4 linked regions of the Homo sapiens genome follow. The protein of the gene in region 4 interacts with the protein of the main gene of each other region in a pairwise test. Each region holds a gene or a part of one and is shown on either strand. Other genes may lie near its edges. The genes, in order: STX8, LAPTM4A, ZDHHC16 and TMED8.

Region 1 (3,808 bases), on a different chromosome or scaffold from region 4:
TATTTACCCCAGAAAAAATGCAAATTTACGTCCATACAAAGTCTTATACATGAATGCTAATAGCAGCTTTCTTTGTAACAGTCAAAAACTGAAAACCACCCAAATATTAATCAACAGGTGAATGGATACACAGATTGTGGTAAATCCATACAATGGAATACAAATCTATAATATAAGAGTGAAATGCAGGCCGGGCGCGGTGGCTCATGCCTGTAATCCCAGCACTTTGGGAGGCCGAGTCGAGTGGATCGCTTGAGGTCAGGAGTTCGAGACCAGCCTGGCCAGCATGGTGAAACCCCATCTCTACTAAAAATACAAAAAAAATTAGCTGGGCATGATGGCGGGCGCCCGTAATCCCAGCCACTCGGGAAGCTGAGGCAGGAGAATTGCTTGAACCCAGGAGGTGGAGGTTGTGGTGAGCTGAGATCGTACCACTGCACTCCAGTCTAGGCAGCAAAGCCAGACTCTGTCTCAAAAAAAAAAAAAAAAAAAAAAGAGTGAAATACTGATACACATAACCAGTTCAATGAATCTTAAAATAATTATGCTTAGACAAAGAAGCCAGAGCCCCTTCTTCCCCAAAAGGTACATACTGTATAGTTCTATTTATATAAAATTATAGAAAATGGAAACTAATTTATAGTGACAGAAAGAAGTTCAGCAGTTGTCTGGGCATGGCAGGGAGGAACAATAGGAAGAATTACAAAGAGGCATGAAGAAAACTTTTGGGAATAACAATTAGGTTCATTATTTTTATTGCAGTGATGGTTTCACAGGCATATACATATGTCAAAGCTTATCAAATCATATACTTCAAACATGGGCCATTTATGATCATATCAACTACATCTCAATAAAGCTGACTTTAGATTTATTTTCTCCTCCTCCTCCTCCCTCTTCCTTTTTATTCATTAATTTTTTTAAAGATGGGATTTTACTATGTTGCCTAGGCTGGTGTCAAACTCCTACACTCAAGCCATCCTGCTGCCTTGGCCTCCCAAAGTGTCAGGAGTACAGGCATGTGCCACCAGGCCTGGCAATAAAGCTGATTTTAAAAAGCAGAATTAGAAAGAATAATGTATCTGTACATACTGACATTTTAAAAAGTCCATAACACATACTAAGTGGTTTTTTCTTTTTTTTCCTTTGAGATGGAGTCTCACTCTGTTGCACAGGCTGGAGTGCAGTGACATGCTATATCGGCTCACTGCAACCTCTGCCTCCTGGGTTCAAGCGATTCTCCTGCCTCAGCCTCCTGAGTAGCTAGGACTACAGGTGCGTGCCACCACACCCAGCTAATTTTTTATTTTTAGTAGAGACGGCGTTTCACCATGTTGGCCAGGCTGGTCTCGAACTCCTGATCTCAGGTGATCCTCCTGCCTCAGCCTCCCAAAGTGCTGGGATTACAGGCGTGAGCCACCACACCCAGCCGACACATACTAAGTTTTAAAAAGGTGTGGAATTATATATATATATGGAGAGAGCTAAATATCTCATGATTCCATTTATGTAAAATAAGTATATTTATATTGAATATATGTATGTGAATGTATACAAAAGGTCTAAGGAAATACATATTAATCTGTTTCCAGTTTGAGATTGGAGAAACAATATGGAGGGCTTTCATCTTATACATTCCTATGTTGTTTACACTTTGTATAACAATCATGCATACTTCTGAAATTTTAAAAATATAAGAAAGTTTAAAAAAAAAAAGTTAAAAAGCCACAGGGCAAAAGATAAAAAAGAAAAGCCAAACTGACATATTTTATAATTTAAAAAATAAAATGGAGTCTTGTGTTTGGAGACTAATTCCCAGTCGTGAAGCTAAAGTAAAGAGCATAAGCATCAAATTTGCTTGGACTTAGATTCAGATCTGCTCTCTCTGCTCTTGCCCAATGGAAAATCACCACTTCCATGAGCCACCGAGATGAGTGACAGCAACTGTCTATTCCTCAGGTATCCTGAGGCACACACCAAAAGCTTTAAAAGACCAGCAGTTTTCACTCCAATTTTCAATGGGGATGAGGAACAAACAAGGCTCCAGTAGAAAATCTGGTGGCCGGGCACGGTGGCTCACACCTGTAATCCCAGCACTTTGGGAGGCCAAGGTGGGAAGATCATGAGGTCAGGAGATCAAGACCATCCTGGCTAACAGGGTGAAACCCTGTCTGTACTAAAAATACAAAAAATTAGCCGGGCATGGTGGCACGCACCTGTAGTCCCAGCTTCTCGGGAGGCTGAGGCAGGAGAATCGTTTGAACCCGGGAGGTGGAGGTTGCAGTGAGCCAAGATCACGCCACTGCACTCCAGCCTAGGCGACATAGCAAGACTCCGTCTCAAAAAAAAAAAAAAAAAAATTCTGGCAAGGTTTCTGAGCCCACACTCCTCAGGATATTTAGTACCTTGGATAATTTTCTGCTGCTGTTGCCGGATTTCATCAAAACCCAAGCCTCTGGTCTCCTCTGGCTCCTCAAAGAGCCAAGGGTTGGGTGCTCCTCGCTTAGCCTCTTCACTCATCAGGCTGGACCTAAAGAACAATATTAAATGCATGATATATCTCAAAACATGCAGCTCAAATGCAAATTACTCCCACAAGTGCAGAGGTGGCCAGCCTTGAATGCTTTGAAAATTCAATTCAAACACAATTTATTGCATCATTAGTTTATGCCAGGAACTGTATTCAGTGCTGGACGAGATACAAGGATGAATAAGGCACAAGCTTGGTCCTCAGAATTACAGCCTGTTATAGAGATGATGGGAGAACATAATATTTGTACTAATCCTCCAAGAGATGTTTGAGTTAATAATCCTAAAAGAAGTTGGTAATAAATGAGGTTCTTAAATTTCAAAAACAGAAGGCCGAACAGCGGCCTTTTTATTAGGACAAAGTTTGTCTCAGAGGCTACGTGACCCCAAAGGTACAAATATTATTTCTCAAGCAGACACAATGTTGCGACTACAGATTACAATGTTGTTGTTGTTTTAAAAAAAGACCATATAATTTCCCATTAAAGGGTATTTGGAGCCGGGCGCAGTGGCTCATGTGTGTAATCCCAGCCCTCTGGGAGGCTGAGGCGGGCAGATCACCTGAAGTCAGGAGTTCCAGACCAGCCCGTCCAACATGATGAAACCCTGTCTCTAATAAACACAAAAAAAATTAGCCGGGCTTGGCGGCAGACATCTGTAATCCCAGCTACTTGGGAGGCTGAGGCAGGAAAATCGCTTGAACCTGAGAGGCGGAGGTTGCAGTGAGCCAAGATGGCGCCACTGCACTGCAGCCTGGGTAGCGGAGCAAGACTCTGTCTCAAAAAAAAAAAAAAAAAAAGGAGTATTTGGTTGCTCAGAGACAGAAACACATGCAGGGTTTCAATACCAATTTTGTGACTATAATGTAGCATTCATAACAGAATAAACACATTCTGATTTGTCAATCTTAACCTTACTCCCTCTAATAATCCATGTGCCCTTTCTGCACGAGACCAGTTGGTCTCGCTGTCTAAGGAACAGGAAACACATGATTTCCACCTCAGTCCCCATGTTTTCAGGATTTTTCTCCTCTCAAGTAGCTCCTCTCCTCTCCCCACCTGTCTGCATTCTGTCCAAGCTGAGAAGATCATCTTGTCCAGGACACGACCTTCTGACCAATTCAACAAAGAGATGAACATTAGACTCATCTTTAGAGCTCTCAACAGATTCATGAAAAATCATAGAATAAATGATGGGTGGGACATCAGCAAGATGACTGATTAGAGTCAGCTGGTGCTCACCCGCTCCCCCCCCCCCCCACCCACCTTTCTTAGGAAAG
Region 2 (3,808 bases), on a different chromosome or scaffold from region 4:
GATTACAGTTAATTTTATGTATTTTTTGAAAAGCTAAACATGTAATTTAGAAATATCAACTTTAATCAGAGATAAGTTGCCAGGGCTTACATGTGAGCACAAGGTAGGCGTTCGTTGGTGAATATCTTTAAGATCAAAGGATGCCAGGAGCGGTGGCTCGTGCCTGTCATCCTAGCACTTTAGGAGGCCAATGCAGTAGGATCACTTGAGGCCAGGAGTTCAAGACCAGACTGGACAACATAGTGAGACTCCATCTCTACAAAAAAAATTTTTTTAAGTCACAAGGATGGGTTTTCCAGTGTAATACTTTAAGATGTAAGTTGGGGTTCTAATGAAATGATGTGATCTAATGGAATATAATTAACTCAAAGAAGATTTGGAAAAAGCTTTTAATGAAGTAGCATTGAAATTTATTTCACTGTTTCTTGGTCCTTCTGATTGGCCCTACGATTTATTTTGTTTAATATTTAGTGGTATGACCCACAGTGAAATTAAACTTGAAGTGTCTCTAGTACTAAAAGAAGATAATAGTGGATGAGCGTGTGACTTATCCATGGAAGAGAAGAAAAGTGAAGAGTTCTTTTGTTTTTTAAGAGACAGACTTAGTATTGTTGCCTAGGCTGGTCTCCAGAGCTCAGGCGATCCTTCCCACCTCAGCCTCCCAAGTAGCTGGGACTATAGGTGTGAGATTTTTAGAAATCCTTCATGTAATAAAAATATTTAAGAAGGGAAAATAGAACTCCTAAATGTTTTTGGCATGTCATTCCCTTCATTTAGTAATTGGGTTTGCATGCTTTTCTTGACAAAGGAATTTCTGTACCGCAGAGAGCTTTTTCACTGTGACTATGCTGTGTTTAGCAAAGAAGAGTTTGCCTAATTGATTTCAAACTGATTTCCATACACAGAACATATAACGTTTTAGTAGATATATCTGATAGTTCAGTAATTAATTCACCTAGTTGTATTAGCTCATACTCATACACCACACACGCTGGCCAAAACCCATTGCAGCAAATGTGGGCAACAAAAAAAATCAGCTTTCAACTGGGGAGAGCCACCTTGCAAAAGTGATTGTTCCTGGTAAGTCCTCTCAAGAATTGAAAGATATCATGCCTTGCCTCTGAACAATGCAAGGAAAGAGGCTTGCTGCTGAACATAGACAGTAAAGTCTAAACATTTTATAGCCTTAGATAATGGTTTCTTTGGGAAAGACCTTAAAATAGGAGTTACTGGGGAATGTTTATTAATAATCACGTAGTGCTGAGAAGGAGGATGTCTTAAAAACCAGACTTGTGTCCTGATTCTCCCATCTGTCAGCTCAGCAAGCTTAACACAAGTTATATAGCTTTACTGAATCTTAAGTTTCCCCATCTACACATAGGCTTTGGTAATACTTACTTCACGGGTTGTTGTGAGGAATAAGTGAAGTAATACACGTAAATACACATGTCATAAAGCATATCCTCAATAAATATTGGTTGATTCCAAATTTCATATTGTGGCATTGTTTAGATCACCTACCCTAAAATAAAACTTGATCTGCTTATCTAGCGGATGTTAGTGAAATGACTTCAGCTGATAAAAGGAAAATGCATTTCCTGTGTGTTTATCATTCAAGGTGAAACAGGAGAGAAGTATATAATAGTTTGTTTAAAATACTATCGATAGCTGGCCGACACAGTGGCTCACACCTGTAATCCCAGCACTTTGGGAGGCCAAGGCTGGTGGATCACTTGAGGTCAGGAGTTTGAGACCAGCCTGGCCAACGTGGCGAAACCCCACCTCTACTAAAAATACAAAAATTAGCCAGGCTTGAATGGTGCACGCCTGTAGTCCCAGCTACTCGGGAGGCTGAGGTGTGAGAATGGCCTGAACCCAAGAGGTGGAAGCTGCAGTAAGCCGAGATCGTGCCACTGCACTCCAGCCTGGGTGACAGAGCGAGGCTTGGTCTCAAAAAAAAAAAAAAAAAAAAAGGTCCCAGCTACTTGGGAGGCTGAGGTGTGAGAATTGCTTGAACCCAAGAGGTGGAAGCTGCAGTGAGCTGAGATTGCGCCACTGCACTCCAGCTTGGGTGACAGAGCAAGGCTTGGTCTCAAAAAAAAAAAAAGTCCCAGCTACCCCGGGGACTGAGGCAGGAGAATCGCTTGAACCCAGGAGGTGGAGGCTGCAGTGAGCCGAGATTGCGCTACTGCACTCCAGCCTGGGCGACAGAGCGAGACTCCATCTCAAAAACTAAATAAATTAAAATACTACTGATAGGAACTTAACCCTTGAAAATTCCAGATGTTCACATTTTCACAAAGGGAAGGAGGGCAAATTCTGTGAACTTTACTATGCTAGATAAGGAAGCCTAACTCCAATCCTACGTGAGATTTCTGTCTTGAGTCGTTAACAATACTCTTTCTGAGTACTTAAATGCAGTGAAGCCTCCTGGGATACCACAGGGATTGGCCAACAACTACAGGCACAACTCATTTCCTTTTAAAATGGATTTACAACCCTGGGAGACTAGGAAAATTCAGATATTATAATGGGATTTCAGCAGGCTGTTCCTCTAAAGAGCTAAACAATTTTATTCAGAAGTTGCTAGTTAATGGGAAGGGGCAGCCTCTGGCAGCTTTGTCCTCACCTCTGTTCTCTTTTGTTAGTAACTTAGATGGAAATACTGATTACATGCTGATCCTAAATTCAGGAAGTTGAGACAGTAAATCTGTAGTGTGTCAGAATCCACATCCAGAAAATCTTCATAGGCAAGAATGTAATAAGATGAAACTCAATTACAGGTATATTAAGGCCTATGCTTGGGCCTCTGAATCCAACTGTACAGGTGGGAGCTTAGCACAATCAAGTGTGAAAAAGAACTTGGTGTTTTAGGGAGTTACTCTCATGTGATATTCAGAAAATTTGTAAAGCCAATGCAGGCTGGGTGCGGTGGCTCATGCCTGTAATCACAGCATGTTGGGAGGCTAAAGCAGGAGGATCACTTGAGGCCAAGAGTTCAAGACCAGCCTAGGCAATATGGTGAGACCTTGTTTCTAACAAAAACAAAAAACCTCAGTACAACTTCAGGTTGCATTAATTGAAATTCGTTAGCCAGAATATGAGAACTGAGATCCCATTATGTTCTGACCAGGGTGACTTTACCTCATTTTAATATATGTCCATCAAACTGGAGCATGTGTAAAGAGGAAGACAAAAGGGAAATAGGTAGCTAGGAAACATGCTAGTCAGAGGAATGGCTTAAAGATCTGCATGTCTATTCTAGAGAACACAGTATTTGGAGGCTGTTTTCAGGTATTGGAGCACTTATTTAGAAGGGAGAGCACATTATCTCAAAAGGTAGATTTAAGGCCGGGCGTGGTGGCTCACGCCTGTAATACCAACACTTTGGGAGGCTAGGGCTGGGTGTATCACTTGAGGTCAGGAATTAGAGACCAGCCTGGCCAACATAGTGAAACCCCGTCTCTACTAAAAATACAAAAATCACCCGCGTATGGTCGTGGGCACCTGTAATCCCAGCTACCAGGTGGCTGAGGTGGGAGGATCACATGAGCCTAGGAAGGGGAGGCTTCAGTGAGCTGAGATTGCACCACTGCACTCCACCCTGGGCAATAGAGTGAGACTCCATATCACACACACGCACACATACACATACACACACACACACAAAAGTAAGACTAGTAGATAAGTGACTTTCAGTATCTTGGTAAGTCTCTTAAGCATTTGAGTCTAGCTCTAGAGGAAATAGTGAGTTCTCTGTCACCTGATGAGAGATGCTGTGGAGGGGTTTCGGGCATCTGATGAATAA
Region 3 (3,808 bases), on a different chromosome or scaffold from region 4:
CTTGAACTCTAGACACTGCTCTCCAAGTGAGAGGTGACTGGTGGCCACCATATCCTACACCCAGAGGCCCCTTCCTGAGCACAGCTTTCCTAGGATTCCACTGTAGTCACGTTGAAGCCTCATCTGTTACTTAAAACCACACAGTATTGGCCTCAAGCCTTTCTGGTTCAAATGGACAATGATCTCTATTCCTAGAGTCTAGAACTGTGCTAACACAGTAGCCACTAGCCATATTCCAAGTGCTCACAGGCATAGAACATCTTTCTCATCACAGTGTTCTGTTGGACAGCATTAGTCTGTGTGTCTTACATTACCTTCCTGTATCCACACCCAGGAATACCTTCCAGTTGTCCAAGCAGCCGTAGTTGTAAGGATTCCTAAATACCTGGAGCCAAGAAAAACATGTTTCTTTGAACTTCTAATTTTTCAGACTAAATTGGCTAAGCTAAAGCTCAGATAGAGTAGTTCTGGCCTTTTACAATGCTTGCCCTAGTCAGCCCTGCCCATGGCCTCTGTTTACAGGAGAGCAAGTTCAGTTACCCACCTACCCACCCCGAGCCTTCAACCCTACTCACTCTGCCCTTGGCCTGTAGCCGACGTCTCTCCTTCTTGTTGATGTGCCTTTCGATGCTAGTCTCACCTCGACTGATGAGAACAGCATGCCATACAGTTAGGGCACCCAGGGCAAGTGCCACAGAACTAAGAAAAGAGGGGCGAAGACTGGTGGGTAGTTTAGAGAGGGCTGGAGGAAGTATGTCTGAAATTGAGCTAAGCAGTAACAACTGGTTTGGAACCTCTCTACCTAAGTCTTCCTCACCTCCCACCATATATCCTAGATAAACTTTTACTTCACTATGTCTATAAAGAGCATCAATGAAAAAGCATCAAAGTGGCCTAAGAATAAATGATGTGAAGCCAGGCATGGTAGCTCATGCCTAGTAGTCCCAGCAACTCAGGAGACTGAGATAGGAAGATCATTTGAGTCTAGCCTGGGCAACATAGCAAGACTCCATCTCTGTTGTTGTTAAGGGAAAAGAGAGTATGTGGAAAGGAGAATAGAGAAATAAGTCTGTATTGCTGAGAAAATGTTCTATATTTCCTAAAATACCCATGCTTGGGAGATAGTGGGAAGTAGTAAACACCCAGGGTTGGAATGGGATGGCATGAAATTCAAATTCCAGTGCTAATATTCCTACTAGCTGTGTATCATAGAACAAGTCACTTCACTTCACTGCCCCTTGGCCCCCAATTTTCAGTTTTCCTCATCTATAAATACAGTCACCCAGCCTTTAGACAGGTGCTAAGATTAAATAAGGAGTTTAACTTACTTTGGTTACATATCAAGCACATACTTGTATCTGTGTGCTTAGTAATAAGCAATGCCAATATCCTCAGTGCTCCCTGCCCTGAATGCTGAAGAAAGTGCTGGCTCTCTGCCAACCTAAGTTAGACTAGAGCAGTGGCAGTTCACTTAGGAATGGGTTTCTGCCTGCGTGTGGGCACCTAAAAAACTTTTTTTCTGAAGCTTCCCCTCCCTTAAAACTATCAAAAACAAATACCTGCACAGGAACCAGAGGTAGACAAGACTCTTGTGAGTCATCCTTTCTCGAAAGGAGAAGGTGGGTGGTGGGGTCTGGTGATAAGTCTAGAAAAAGAAAACAGCAAAGCTGGCTCATTTGCTCTGTGGGTCTCCAGCAACTGCCCCCAGCACCTATAGGCAGGAAATGATCCAAATCCAGGCAGAGAAAACAGGGTAAAGCCACAGAGGAGTTAGGGTAGCAGCCAAGATGGGTGGACCAAGCCCAGCGGCATCACCACATGGACAAACACTGGGCAGCAGAGCAGGGTCTGGACAGGATGGTGAAGCACAGGAGAAGCTGACCCTGGGCCTGTAGAGTGACAACACAAATGGGGCTCCAGGGGAAGCCACTCCAATCCCCAGCCAGAACTCCTTCACTGCACAGCTGCATCCCCAAGAGAGGAGACCAGACCATACCCAGAATGGACTGACTGGAGTGGGGAAAACCACTAGGGACTGTGAGCTCCACTAGGGACTGTGAAAGGGCAGCAGAAATACAATCAAGATGGGCTCAGCAGATTAGGGAGTCCTAAAAGGTACTGGGGGGGCAGGGATGATCCAGATGCAGATGGACCAGGAGCAAGGGATGATCAGACTGGCTCTGCCTGATCTCTGTCCCCTGGAACCCCATTACACAGACTAACATAGACTCCTTGCTGCTCAGGCCATCACCAAGGCAGATTGCTTGCTCGACCCAAAGAGAGGTGATGACGGGATAGATAGCCAAAACTGTCACATACCAGGGACTTCCAGCTTGCCTGTAGGCCACTTAGTCTACCCACCACAGCCAGCCTGCCTGAACACTCCTGATCTGGTCTAGAGTGGCCTCTCGGCAGCCTCTACAACTACATGGGCAGGTCGGCCCCAGATGCCTTAGCAACTCTATACCCCCAGGCCTGAGCAGCAGGAGGCAGTGGGGTGGGGACAGCCCACCTGGTTGGCAACCGCCTGTAGTTTGTTCTTGTCGAGCTGTTTCATTTTCTAAGGGGACGGAAAACAGTGCTGGTTATACTCTCAGGCCTCTAGGATGGGGTGCTACCAGCCCCATTCCTTAGGGACAGGTTCTACATCCCGAAGTTCTGCACTACTGAGCTGCCCTGTTCCTGATGAGCTCACCTCAATGGCAGCATAAGCCTCCCGGAAAAGGTCCCAACTTCCATAGCTGCAGTAGACACAGCCCAGAGTCATGAAAAAGCAGAAAGAGAAGAAGTACCGATGGTTATAGTGGCCCACACAATTGTTTAGCCAGGCTGGTTGGGAAATGATTAAGGACTAGAATCAAACACAATTTCAGGCGGTGTCCAGGCCCCTCAGGTTCATCCCTGGTTCCTGACAATATCACCCAAGCCTCAGGCTTCCAGTCACTAAGAACTACTTTCCAAAGGCAAGAAAATACAAGACTGTTCACACCCAAGGTTGAGGTGAAAATGCTCAAAGCTTTTCAGAGCATTCAGGTCCCACCAAGAAGTCACGGAAACTGAAATCCTTCAGTAAAATGAATCTGCCAATATTTCAGCCTAGCTGGAGTTAGCCAAACATCTGTGTGGAACAGCAGCTGGAGACCCACGGTTCTATCTGGCGTACACAGTAAACAACCACAGAAGCCCAAACATCTCTTTCCATCCAATAGCTGTTAGCATGAGAGTCTAGAAAAGAAAGAGGTGTTAAAAGATTCCCTGCTCCAAGAAGATCCGTCCTAGAGTGTGAGCTTCCTGCTCTCCCAGGAGATGGTCAGGCCCCACAACTCCTCAACTCCAGTGTTCTCTGCACGGTGATGCTAAAATGGTGGCCATTAACCCTGTACAGTGCTCTGGAGCTAAAGAAGGCCTCAGGCAGAAGAGAAAGCAAAAGGATACGGCAGTGGTGATCCATCTTCAGCACACACCTGTGAGGAAGGGACACAGGCTCTGTTACGGTGGCCAAAGTTCTTGAGATGTCAGTGCCAATCCTTCCCTACAAGGACCAGCATCCTGCTGAGGTGGAAAGGGCACAGACTTTGAAGACAGCCAGGCCTTGCTTCAAACCCAGCTCTGCAGTTTAATGGCTATAAGATATTGGACAAGGTAACTCATCTCTCCAAACCTCGGTTTTCACAAGTGGTAATAATGCCTAACTCACAGGACCATCCTAAGGATGAGGTGTCAGGAGAAGAGGGCACATCACCTGGGACACGATGGGTGATTCACCCATGTCTTAGCAAACTCAAGGTTAGGTTTTGCCCTAGGGCTA
Region 4 (3,808 bases):
GGTGGCATGTGCCTGTAATCCCAGCTACTCGGGAGGCGAGGTGGGACAATCACTTGAACCCAGGAGGTGGAGGTTGCAGTGAGCCAAGATCGTGCCACTGCACTCCAGCCTGGGCGACAGAGGGAGACCCTGTCTCAAAAAAAAAAAAAAAAAAAAGCTTCTGTGGAATCTTTATCATAAATACTAAATAGATCTACCACAAGAAAAGTAAGAGCAAAATAGTCCAATGACTTCAGGCTCCTCAATGAAGAGGATTTTAGAGAACACATGAACATTCACTCTAACACTTCGTTTTCTGAATCGGTGCCTACTGGGTGCCAGTACAATGATGGGCCCTGTGGAAGATACAAATAATCATTCTCCAAAAAATAATGAAGACCAAGATGCCCTAAATTAGAGGGCAAAGAGAGAATTCCGGGAGCCACCCTCGCAGTGCTTTCTAATTCCAACCCAACCACTATGTGTCCACATTCTGGTGCCTCCTTTCATAAGAAAGAGCCAGAATCTGCCCCCTACCTCATTGAGGACCTGGGCCTGGTCTGCAGGCAGCAAATCCTGTTTCACCAAGGCCTGAGCCTCCAAAGGACCAGTTGCTTTCCGCAGATCTTCCGTGGCATCCTTACTCACTGGAGATACCATCTGTGGCCTCTCAGAGGAAGAGAGCATGTTAATTCAAGGACTCTTTGAAAAGACTCAATCATCCTGGAGAAACTTTGAAATAAAACAACATTCGAGATACCCCCTGCCCCACCTGCCCCTGGCATTTATTTAGCTCTACTGTCACCTTAGCCGACCACTGCCCAGGGCTGAATTGGTCCACAGTAAAGTGTTGACAGTGTGAAAACAAAGACTAACAAGGCCAGGTCAAAGGCTAGGAGAACCATGGAAAACACACAGCTCCATCATCTGAGATGGACTGCTGGTCTGGTTTTTTTTTTTTTTTTTTTTTTTTGTCATTGTTGTTTCTTTTATTTATTTATTTTAGTTGACAAAGTGTATATATTTATGGTGTACAATGTGCTGTTTTGATATATGTACACATTGTAAAATGATTAAATTGAGCTAATTAACATATCCATCCCCTCACATACTCCTTTTTGTGGTGAGAACATTTAAAATCTACTGTCTTAGCAATTTTCAAGTATACATTGTTATTAACTATTGTCACCATGTTGTACAAAGATCTCCAGAACTTGTTCCTCCTTCTAACACCTTATACCACTTGACCAACATCTCCCCATCCCACCCCCTGGCCCCAACACCTATTAACCACCATCCTGCCCTCGGCTTCTGTGAGTTCCAATGTTATTCCTCACTCTGCGGCCCACAGGGCCCACAGAATTTTAACCGAGGAATTGGTAGAATCTCAGTTCAGTTCTACACACAAAGCCACTGGCTAGAAGCAAAAGGAGGAGGTCTGCCTAAGGGAGACTGGGCACCAAAACAAAGTACAAAATGATGATCAAGGCAACCCTCTCTGCAGTTATCCCTGAGGCAGTCTTTCAGCAGATCCGTTTCATACCCTGTCCCCGTTCAGTGCTAGGGGTCATCACTTTCTCTCCTTTTTAAAGCACATTAATCAACAATCCCAATGGCTTCAAACACAGCTATGTGAATAGTTGTTTGTTTTTTGGCAGAGTGCACCAGTGATGCATCTCACCACAACCTCAAGCAATTCTCCTGCCTCAGCCTCCCGAGTAGCTGGGATCACAGGCATGTGCCACGACACCCGGCTAATTTTGTATTTTTAGTAGAGACAGTGTTTCTCCATGTTGTTGGTCAGGCTGGTCTTGAACTCCCGACCTCAGGTGATCTGCCTGCCTCGGCCTCCCAAAGTACTAGGATTACAGGCGTGAGCCACCGTGCTCAGCCATGAATAGTTGATTATAAAGATGCAAGGGAATGATTTATGCTCTCTTCCATTTCCCCTGGCCTCACAAAAACTAGAAAATTAGTGCCACGGTTGTAGCAAAATAACCCAGGCCTTTTGGGAATCTGTTGCTGATAAAAGGTGACATGGATTTTTTTGAATGGCAGTTATCCAAGTATGGTCTAGGGGCCCTTCGGGGGAGTCTATGAAGTTCAAACTGTTTCATAATAACACTAAAATGTTATTTCCCTTTTTTCATTCTCATTTTCTCAAGAGTGTGCAGTGGAATTTTCCAGAGACTATATGACATGTGATACCGCAATAGAATGAACTCAGAAGCAGAGCTGAGAATCCAACTGCCTTTTATTAAGCCAAACATTAAAGAGATTTATGTCTCTCTTTGTACTACATTCTTTGCTTTGAAAATTAGTTGTTTTTAAGTAAAAACATGTTTTATATATAGCATGTCATGAGTTATTATTTTTAAATGAACAAATAACCATATTCTAATTTTTCAGTTTTAATTTCTTTTTTTTTTTGAGACGGAGTCTCACTCTGTCGCCCAGGCTGGAGTGCAGTGGCGCGATCTCAGCTCACTCAAGCTCCGCCTCCCGGGTTCACTCCGTTCTCCTGCCTCACCCTCCCGAGTAGCTGGGACTACAGGCGCCGGCCACCACACCCAGCTAATTTTTTTGTATTTTTAGTAGAGACGTGGTTTCACCATGTTAGCCAGGATGGTCTCGATCTCCTGACCTCGTGATCCACCCACCTTGGCCTCCCAAAGTGCTGGGATTACAGGCATGAGCCACCGCGCCCGGCTGTTTTAATTTCTAATATAGTAAATATTGATAGATATAACCCACACAAACAAAAATTCTTTGGGTCCTTAATAATTTTTAAGAGTATAAAGGTCTGAGAATCCCTGCTTGAGGGCATCATTTCCTCAAAGAGGTTGAGTAAATGACTGGAAAATGGTAGTATACACCTCATGGGGGAAACGGAGGCTTCATTTTAGAGTTTATTAGTTTGTTTCTTTTCTTTTTTAACATAAACAAGAAGAATCACTCCTTCAGATAAAACAGAGCCATCTTTTGGAATATCCAAAATTACTCCAACCTACCTCAGGACAGACAAGAGGAGGTCACTCCAAGAATCAGAGCTGTGGGATTCTGTTGATCTTTATAGGTTCACTTGGGTAATTCAGTGTAAGCTGTAAACTGGCCTAGGCTGTGGGTCTATTTTAATGCTCTTCAACCCAGAAATTATAGTCCATTTCTGTTTCTTGACACTGTGTATCATCTGCCTCCTCTACTAGAAAGTAAGCTTGGTGGCAGGCACTGGGTCTCACTGCCTCTGTATGCACAGCACTGGGAACCAAGCCTGCCACCTGGAACTCTAAGGCCCTTTTTTTTTTTTTTTTTTTTTGGAGACAGAGTCTTGCTCTGTCGCCCAAGCTGGGGTGTAGTGGCATGATCTCGGATCTCGGCTCACTGCAACTCTGCCTCCCTGGTTCAAGCAATTCTCTTGCCTCAGCCTCCTGAGTAGCTGGGACTACAGGTGTGCACCACCATGCCTGGCTAATTTTTTGTATTTTTAATAGAGACGGGGTTTCACCATGTTGGCCAGGGTGGTCTCAAACTTCTGACCTCAGATGATCCACCCGCCTCTGCCTCCCAAAGTGCTGGGATTACAGGCGTGAGCCACCTCGCCCAGCCCTAAGGCCCTTTGCACTCTGACCTCACCTCTCAGAATCCTCACTCTGCCCTGGTCCCTCCAGCCACAACAGCCTCTTCAATCCTTGATAGTCCTCAAACACCCCAAGTACTCTCCCACTTGAGAGCTTTTGCATTTGCTGTAATCTCTGCCTAGAATACTCTTCTAGGACATTAACTCTTCTTTAGTTAACTGAAGACTTCCTTCCTGCAGGTTTTCTGCTGA

The links.
Region 1: the proteins of TMED8 (region 4) and STX8 interact in binary tests that used the Homo sapiens proteins (3 or more experiments, as listed by UniProt).
Region 2: the proteins of TMED8 (region 4) and LAPTM4A interact in binary tests that used the Homo sapiens proteins (3 or more experiments, as listed by UniProt).
Region 3: the proteins of TMED8 (region 4) and ZDHHC16 interact in binary tests that used the Homo sapiens proteins (3 or more experiments, as listed by UniProt).

What each region holds. Positions count from the first base shown.
Region 1 is NC_000017.11:9,502,633-9,506,440, forward strand, and holds part of STX8 (syntaxin-8), read right to left. Parts: intron 2,531-3,808; coding exon 2,406-2,530; intron 1-2,405. UniProt on the Homo sapiens protein: Vesicle trafficking protein that functions in the early secretory pathway, possibly by mediating retrograde transport from cis-Golgi membranes to the ER.
Region 2 is NC_000002.12:20,041,377-20,045,184, reverse strand, and holds part of LAPTM4A (lysosomal-associated transmembrane protein 4A), read left to right. Parts: intron 1-3,808. UniProt on the Homo sapiens protein: May function in the transport of nucleosides and/or nucleoside derivatives between the cytosol and the lumen of an intracellular membrane-bound compartment.
Region 3 is NC_000010.11:97,452,551-97,456,358, reverse strand, and holds part of ZDHHC16 (palmitoyltransferase ZDHHC16), read right to left. Parts: intron 3,465-3,808; coding exon 3,436-3,464; intron 2,830-3,435; coding exon 2,696-2,829; intron 2,561-2,695; coding exon 2,513-2,560; intron 1,646-2,512; coding exon 1,560-1,645; intron 758-1,559; coding exon of another isoform or gene 700-757; coding exon 576-699; intron 386-575; coding exon 315-385; intron 1-314. UniProt on the Homo sapiens protein: Palmitoyl acyltransferase that mediates palmitoylation of proteins such as PLN and ZDHHC6.
Region 4 is NC_000014.9:77,345,833-77,349,640, forward strand, and holds part of TMED8 (protein TMED8), read right to left. Parts: intron 649-3,808; exon of another isoform or gene 647-648; coding exon 517-646; intron 1-516.